Homo sapiens: one gene and its partner. The protein of the gene in region 1 interacts with the protein of each later gene in a pairwise test. Each region holds a gene or a part of one and is shown in the gene's direction. Other genes may lie near its edges.

What was found.
Region 2: the proteins of DNAJA3 (region 1) and NOC4L interact in binary tests that used the Homo sapiens proteins (3 or more experiments, as listed by UniProt).

Annotation. Positions count from the first base shown.
Region 1 is NC_000016.10:4,435,772-4,439,521, forward strand, and holds part of DNAJA3 (dnaJ homolog subfamily A member 3, mitochondrial), read left to right. Parts: intron 1-1,630; coding exon 1,631-1,714; intron 1,715-3,750. UniProt on the Homo sapiens protein: Modulates apoptotic signal transduction or effector structures within the mitochondrial matrix. Affect cytochrome C release from the mitochondria and caspase 3 activation, but not caspase 8 activation.
Region 2 is NC_000012.12:132,147,342-132,151,091, forward strand, and holds part of NOC4L (nucleolar complex protein 4 homolog), read left to right. Parts: coding exon 1-47; intron 48-291; coding exon 292-441; intron 442-538; coding exon 539-638; intron 639-730; coding exon 731-765; intron 766-1,250; coding exon of another isoform or gene 1,251-1,267; coding exon 1,268-1,318; intron 1,319-1,442; coding exon 1,443-1,554; intron 1,555-3,639; coding exon 3,640-3,700; intron 3,701-3,750.

The DNA of each region.
Region 1 (3,750 bases):
GTGCTGCTATATAGACATTCATATGTAAGTTTTTGTGTAGACATGTTTTCAGTTCTCTTGGATATTTAGGAGTATAGTTGCTGAGTCATATGGTAACTGGATGTTTAACCTTTTGAGAAGCTGCCAGCCTTTTTCAAAGCAGCTGCACCATTTTACATTCCCACCAGCAGCATATGAGGGCCATGATTTCTCCACATCCCAGTGAACACTTAACTATTATCGTCTGTCTTTTTAATTACGACCCTAGTGAATAAGAAATGCTATCTCGTTAGAGTTTCGATTTGCTTTTTCCCTGATGACTAATGATGGTGAGCATCTTTCTTGTGCATGTTGGCTATTAGTATGTCTTTGGAGAAACGTGTGTTTGGATCCATTGCCCACTTTTAACTGGGTTGTCTTTTTTTTTTAATTGGGTTGTAATGGAATGAACAGAGGCATGGGGACAGGAAGCAGAGATCCTGGCCTGTGAAGAGCGAATGGCCTGTCTCTTCCTGAGCTCAAGAGTCAGGTGCCTGATCCAAGAGTGGGAAAAGATTGAAAAGATGGAGGCTGGGTTGGACTCACATGACAGTTGATTTGAGGCCCTTAGTAAGTCCCAGAGACATAATTTAAGAGAAAGACTTAATTTAGAGAACCATTCAGATTTTTAGGCACGGAAGTAAAAAGATCAGGTAAAGCTGTAGCAATTACTGTATTTTATTTACCTACAAAAATAATTGAAACAGCAGAGACGTCTATTTATTCAGTCATTTTCTTCCCTTTTTAAAAATTTTTTCTTTTTTCAGACAGAGTCTCGCCGTGTGGCTCAGGCTGGAGTGCAGTGGTGCAGTCTTGGCTCACTGCAACCTCTGTCTCCTGGGCTCAAGCAATTCTCCTGCCTCAGCCTCCCGAGTACCTGTGTTTATAGGCGCGTGTGACCATACCTGGCTAATTTTTGTATTTTTAGTAGAGATGGGGTTTCGCCATGTTGGCCAGGCTGTTCTCAAACTCCTGACCTCTGGTGATCCACCCAGCTCAGCATCTCAAAGTGCTGGGATAACAGGCATGAGCCACTGCGCCCGGCCCCCTTTTTAAAAATTTGTTTTTCTTTTTTGTTCATTTACCTATTCTAAGCCATGCTGGGTGCTAAGGGCAAAGATACATCAGAATCAGTTCCTGCCCTCAAGTTAAGAGATGGATACATTAAAACAGATCATTATTATTATTATTTTGTGGGGCGGACAGAATCTCACTCCGTCACCTAGGCTGGAGTGCAGTGCCTCGATCTCTGCTCACTGCAACCTCCACCTCCCAGGTTCAAGTGATTCTCGTGCTTCAGCCTCCTGAGTAGCTGGGACCACAGGCATGTGCCACCACGCCTGACTAATTTTTTCTATTTTTGGTGGAGAGGGGTTTCGCTGTGTTGCCCAGGCTGGTGTTGAACTCCTGAGCTTAAGTGATCTGCCTGCCTTCACTTCCCAAAGTGTTGGGATTACAGGCGTGAGCCACTGCACCCAGCCGAGAGACAACTTTTATAAAGGGAACATAATTATGACTGGTATTTGGGGTTCTGTTGTATCGGGGGTTTTGTTGTTTCTGGTATTTGGGGTTCACATTGTATCTGGAGTAATTTATCATGTTTTTCCCTTAGCTTGCCAAGAAGTATCACCCTGACACAAATAAGGATGATCCCAAAGCCAAGGAGAAGTTCTCCCAGCTGGCAGAAGCCTATGAGGTAATATGACTTCGGTGCATGCGGTCACTGCTGTTCAGCTATGTGTATGAATCAAAGGTTGCATTGCTACCTGGGACAGCCTGGTGTGTCATACAGTCCAGTGTGAAGGCCATGTCCCTGCGCCAAGTAATCTTGTTAAGAAAAATAAAAAAAAAGAGATTCCAGGCCAAGCATGGTGGCTCACTCCTGTAGTCCTAGCACTTTGGGAAGCTGAGGCAGGAGGATCACTTGACCTCAGGAGTTGGCTTGACCCTAGGAGTTTGAGACCAGCTTGGGCAATGTAGTAAGACCACGTCTCTACAAAAAAAAAAAAAAAAATCACCAGGCGTGGTGGTGGCGCACCTGTAAACCCAGCTACTTGGGAGGCTGAGTCAGGTTCATCACTTGAGGGGCTCAAAGCTGCAGTGACCCATGATGCCATGATTGTGCCATAGAACTATGGTCTGGGCAACAGAAAAAGACCTTCTCTCAAAAAATAAAAAATTAAAAAAAAAACAAAACAACAACATTCTAAGACTAACTTGGAATCTCAATGAAGAACAGGATCCAGGCCAGGCGTGGTGGCTCATGCCTGTAATCCCAACACTTTGGGAGGCCGAGGCAGGTGGATCACCAGGTCAGGAGATCGAGACCATCCCGGCTAACACGGTGAAACCCCGTCTCTACTAAAAATAAAAAAAAATTAGCCGGGCATGGCGGCATGCGCCTGTAGTCCCAGGTGCTGGGGAGGCTGAGGCAGGAGAATGGCGTGAACCCGGGAGGCGGAGCTTGCAGTGAGCTGAGATTGCGCCACTGCACTCCAGCCTGGGCGACAGAGCAAGACCCCGTCTCAAAAAAAAAAAAAAGAACAGGATCCAATAATCTGTACTAATAAAGTTCCCCAGGTAATTTACACTTGTAGCTGGATTTGGGAATTCACAGTTGGATTAATTAATTCAGCCCTTATTCAATGACATCCCCTTCCTCCACCTCAGGGCATCACTGCTTTTTGGGGATAGAGGTTATTGTAAAAGTAGAAGCCCATTATTGTCCTATAAGAATGTCAATGTAATCAGAGGACAAAGCATACATCTCTGAAAACAGCTATTGACCCCACTTCCATAGTTTTCTGAAAGTAGACCTTTTTCCCAGATTTTTTGACAATCTTTTCTTTTTTTTTTTTTTTTTTTGCTTAAGAGACAGGGTCCCTCTATGTTGCCCAGGCTGGTCTTGAACTCCTGAGCTGAAGAGATCCTCCTGCCTCAGCCTCTCAAATTGCTAGGATTATAGGTGCAAGGCACCAGACCTGCCCGACTTTGGCCATCCTAAAGGGGTTCAGTATATATAGGAGCTCATATATCTATAAGAGTAGACAGCCACGTAGAAGAACAGGCTCAACTCAGTAAATCTTTTTTGAGTAAATATCTGTCAACTAGATCTAATGAAAAGTTTATTTACTAGTGTAATTTTAAAATAATATGTTCTTATTAGGTAACTCAAACTAATTGATAACATAACTAAACAGTCTTGGAACCTGCTTCTATGGAAGATAAGATTAATTTTTTTTTTTTTTTCAAGAGTTGAGGTCTCAGCCAGGTGCAGTGGCTTACGTCTATAATCCCTATAATCCCAGCACTTTGGGAGGCCAAGACAGGCAGATCAGGAGGTCAGGAGTTTGAGACCAGCCTGGCCAAGAGACCAGCCTGAGCAATATGGTGAAACCCCATCTCTACTAAAAATACAAAAATTAGCCAGGTGTGGTGGTGGGTGCCTGTAATCCCAGCTATTCAGGAGGCTGAGGCAGGAGAATTGCTTGAACCCGGGAGGCATCAGTGAGCCGAAGATTGCGCCATTGTACTCCAGCCTGGGCAACAGAGCGAGACTCCCAATCAAAAAAAAAAAAAAAAGAGTTGAGGTCTCACTCTGTTACCTAGGCTGGAGTGTAGTGGCGAGATCACAGCTCACTGCAGTCTCAAACTCTTGGGCTCAAGCAGTTTTCCTGCCTCAACCTCAACTTCCTGAGTAGCTGGGACTACAGGTTCCCCACTGCACCCAGA
Region 2 (3,750 bases), on another chromosome or scaffold:
AGTCCAAGTGGGAAGGCAACTACCTGTTCCCCCGAGAGCTCTTCAAGGTGAGGGCCTTGCTGGGGACTCCCAGAGGGCCTGGCTGGCTGGCCAGATCCCAGGATGGCCCCGTAGTGGGGGCGGGGCCTGCTGAGCTGAGCCTGGCTGTTGGCTGGGACACTCCTGTGGCTCCTGTGGCCCACCCAACCAGGAGGAGTCTGCCTGGGGGGCTCGATGGGGCAGGGCTGCCTGCCTGGACCTTGCTGGCGTATGCTGGGCCGGGCAGGGCTGCTCACTGGTCCTTGCCCCTAGTTGGTGGTGGGAGGCCTGCTGTCTCCTGAGGAGGACCAGAGCCTGCTCCTGTCCCAGTTCCGGGAGTACCTGGACTACGACGACACCCGCTACCACACCATGCAGGCAGCCGTGGATGCCGTGGCCCGGGTCACTGGCCAGCACCCCGAGGTGGGTGATGGGGTCCTGTCGCCAGCATCATGCTGTTGCCTCCCAGGGAGGCAGGGACTGGGGGGCGGCGTCCAGGCACTCAGGCCAGGCTCCGCAGGTGCCCCCCGCCTTTTGGAACAATGCCTTCACGCTGCTGTCTGCCGTGAGCCTGCCCCGCCGGGAGCCCACCGTCTCCAGCTTCTATGTGAAGCGGGCGGGTGAGTGTGCTGAGAGTCAGGGGCGGACAGGGCTGAGCCTTGGTCTGCCTCCCCTGCGGGTCAGGTGACCTTTGCCCTCGCTTTCCCTGCAGAGCTGTGGGACACCTGGAAGGTTGCTCACCTGAAGGTGAGTTGCTTCTGGAGAGCCGGGCACCCTCCCGGGTTTGGGGGTGTGTGTGGGGTGCATGTGAGACCCCATGGAGGCTGCCGCCTTCCTCACCAGAGGAAACTCCCAGGGTACAGGTGGCAGCTTGCACGGCCACCAGGTCACTCGAAGTGTGGGAGGTGACGAGACCTGTGAACTCGGGACCCTCCCTTGGGTCAGAGGCCACCGCCGCCTCTTGGAGTCAAGCCTCTGGTGCCACCTGTGGGCCCCGTGGGCTGTTTTGGGCGCAGCCCCCCTCTTGGCCATGGTCTTGCCAAAGCTGCTTTCTTGGCTGTTCTGAGACTCCAGCCTCGAGGGCAAGGCGTACCTGACTTGAATGGGGACAGGAAGAAGGAAGGCAGGGTCAGAAAAGTGGAGAGCAGGCTTGTGTTGGCTCAGGCTGGGCTTCGGGGTGCCCTGGCAGCTGCTCGGGCTCTGGTCTGGGGTGGGGAGGGCGGCGAGTGCAGTCTGGACCCCGTTGCAGGAGCACAGGAGGGTTTTCCAGGCCATGTGGCTCAGCTTCCTCAAGCACAAGGTAGGGGCCAGGCCGGGGAGGGGGCGGGGGCGGCATCCGGGTCTCCCCCAGGGCGGAGGCCTCACCCCGACCCGCCGGCCCCCGCCCACCCGCCCCTCACCCCCACCTGCCGGCCCCCGCCCAGCTGCCCCTCAGCCTCTACAAGAAGGTGCTGCTGATTGTGCATGACGCCATCCTGCCGCAGCTGGCGCAGCCCACGCTCATGATCGACTTCCTCACCCGCGCCTGCGACCTCGGTGAGTGCCGCCGCCTCGCTCACACCACACCCCTAATCCCCTCGGTGAGTGCCGCCGCCTCACTCCTACCACACCCCTAATCCCCTCGGTGAGTGCCGCCGCCTCACTCCTACCACACCCCTAATCCCCTCGGTGAGTGCCGCCGCCTCACTCACACCACACCCCTAATCCCCTCGGTGAGTGCCGCCGCCTCACTCCTACCACACCCCTAATCCCCTCGGTGAGTGCCGCCGCCTCACTCCTACCACACCCCTAATCCCCTCGGTGAGTGCCGCCGCCTCGCTCACACCACACCCCTAATCCCCTCGGTGAGTGCCGCCGCCTCGCTCACACCACACCCCTAATCCCCTCGGTGAGTGCCGCCGCCTCGCTCACACCACACCCCTAATCCCCTCGGTGAGTGCCGCCGCCTCGCTCACACCACACCCCTAATCCCCTCGGTGAGTGCCGCCGCCTCGCTCACACCACACCCCTAATCCCCTCGGTGAGTGCCGCCGCCTCGCTCACACCACACCCCTAATCCCCTCGGTGAGTGCCGCCGCCTCGCTCACACCACACCCCTAATCCCCTCGGTGAGTGCCGCCGCCTCGCTCACACCACACCCCTAATCCCCTCGGTGAGTGCCGCCGCCTCACTCACACCACACCCCTAATCCCCTCGGTGAGTGCCGCCGCCTCACTCACACCACACCCCTAATCCCCTCGGTGAGTGCCGCCGCCTCGCTCACACCACACCCCTAATCCCCTCGGTGAGTGCCGCCGCCTCACTCCTACCACACCCCTAATCCCCTCGGTGAGTGCGGCCGCCTCACTCACACCACACCCCTAATCCCCTCGGTGAGTGCGGCCGCCTCGCTCACACCACACCCCTAATCCCCTCGGTGAGTGCCGCCGCCTCGCTCACACCACACCCCTAATCCCCTCGGTGAGTGCCGCCGCCTCGCTCACACCACACCCCTAATCCCCTCGGTGAGTGCCGCCGCCTCACTCCTACCACACCCCTAATCCCCTCGGTGAGTGCCGCCGCCTCGCTCATACCACACCCCTAATCCCCTCGGTGAGTGCCGCCGCCTCACTCACACCACACCCCTAATCCCCTCGGTGAGTGCCGCCGCCTCGCTCACACCCCTAATCCCCTCGGTGAGTGCCGCCGCCTCGCTCACACCACACCCCTAATCCCCTCGGTGAGTGCCGCCGCCTCGCTCACACCACACCCCTAATCCCCTCGGTGAGTGCCGCCGCCTCGCTCACACCACACCCCTAATCCCCTCGGTGAGTGCCGCCGCCTCGCTCACACCACACCCCTAATCCCCTCGGTGAGTGCCGCCGCCTCGCTCACACCACACCCCTAATCCCCTCGGTGAGTGCCGCCGCCTCGCTCACACCACACCCCTAATCCCCTCGGTGAGTGCCGCCGCCTCGCTCACACCACACCCCTAATCCCCTCGGTGAGTGCCGCCGCCTCGCTCACACCACACCCCTAATCCCCTCGGTGAGTGCCGCCGCCTCGCTCACACCACACCCCTAATCCCCTCGGTGAGTGCCGCCGCCTCGCTCACACCACACCCCTAATCCCCTCGGTGAGTGCCGCCGCCTCGCTCACACCACACCCCTAATCCCCTCGGTGAGTGCCGCCGCCTCGCTCACACCACACCCCTAATCCCCTCGGTGAGTGCCGCCGCCTCGCTCATACCACACCCCTAATCCCCTCGGTGAGTGCCGCCGCCTCGCTCATACCACACCCCTAATCCCCTCGGTGAGTGCCGCCGCCTCGCTCATACCACACCCCTAATCCCCTCGGTGAGTGCCGCCGCCTCGCTCACACCACACCCCTAATCCCCTCGGTGAGTGCCGCCGCCTCGCTCACACCCCCAACCCCCACCCCGCAGCACCTCTTCCCCGATCCCACTGCCTCCACCCCCCACTCCCCTGCCCTGCATGTGGTCTCCAGCTTTGTGTCCGTGGGGGCTGTGGGAGGGGACAGCAGGGGCAGAGGCCACACTCCACAGACTTACACTCAGTGTGGGCAGGGGGTAGGGTGGGAGCGAGGTCACTGCAGCTCCAGCCTGTGTCTGTCTGTCTGCAGGGGGGGCCCTCAGCCTCTTGGCCTTGAACGGGCTGTTCATCTTGATTCACAAACACAACCTGTGAGTGTCACCAGGGGTGCAGGTCTTCTTCCCAGTCTGCCCAGCCCTGC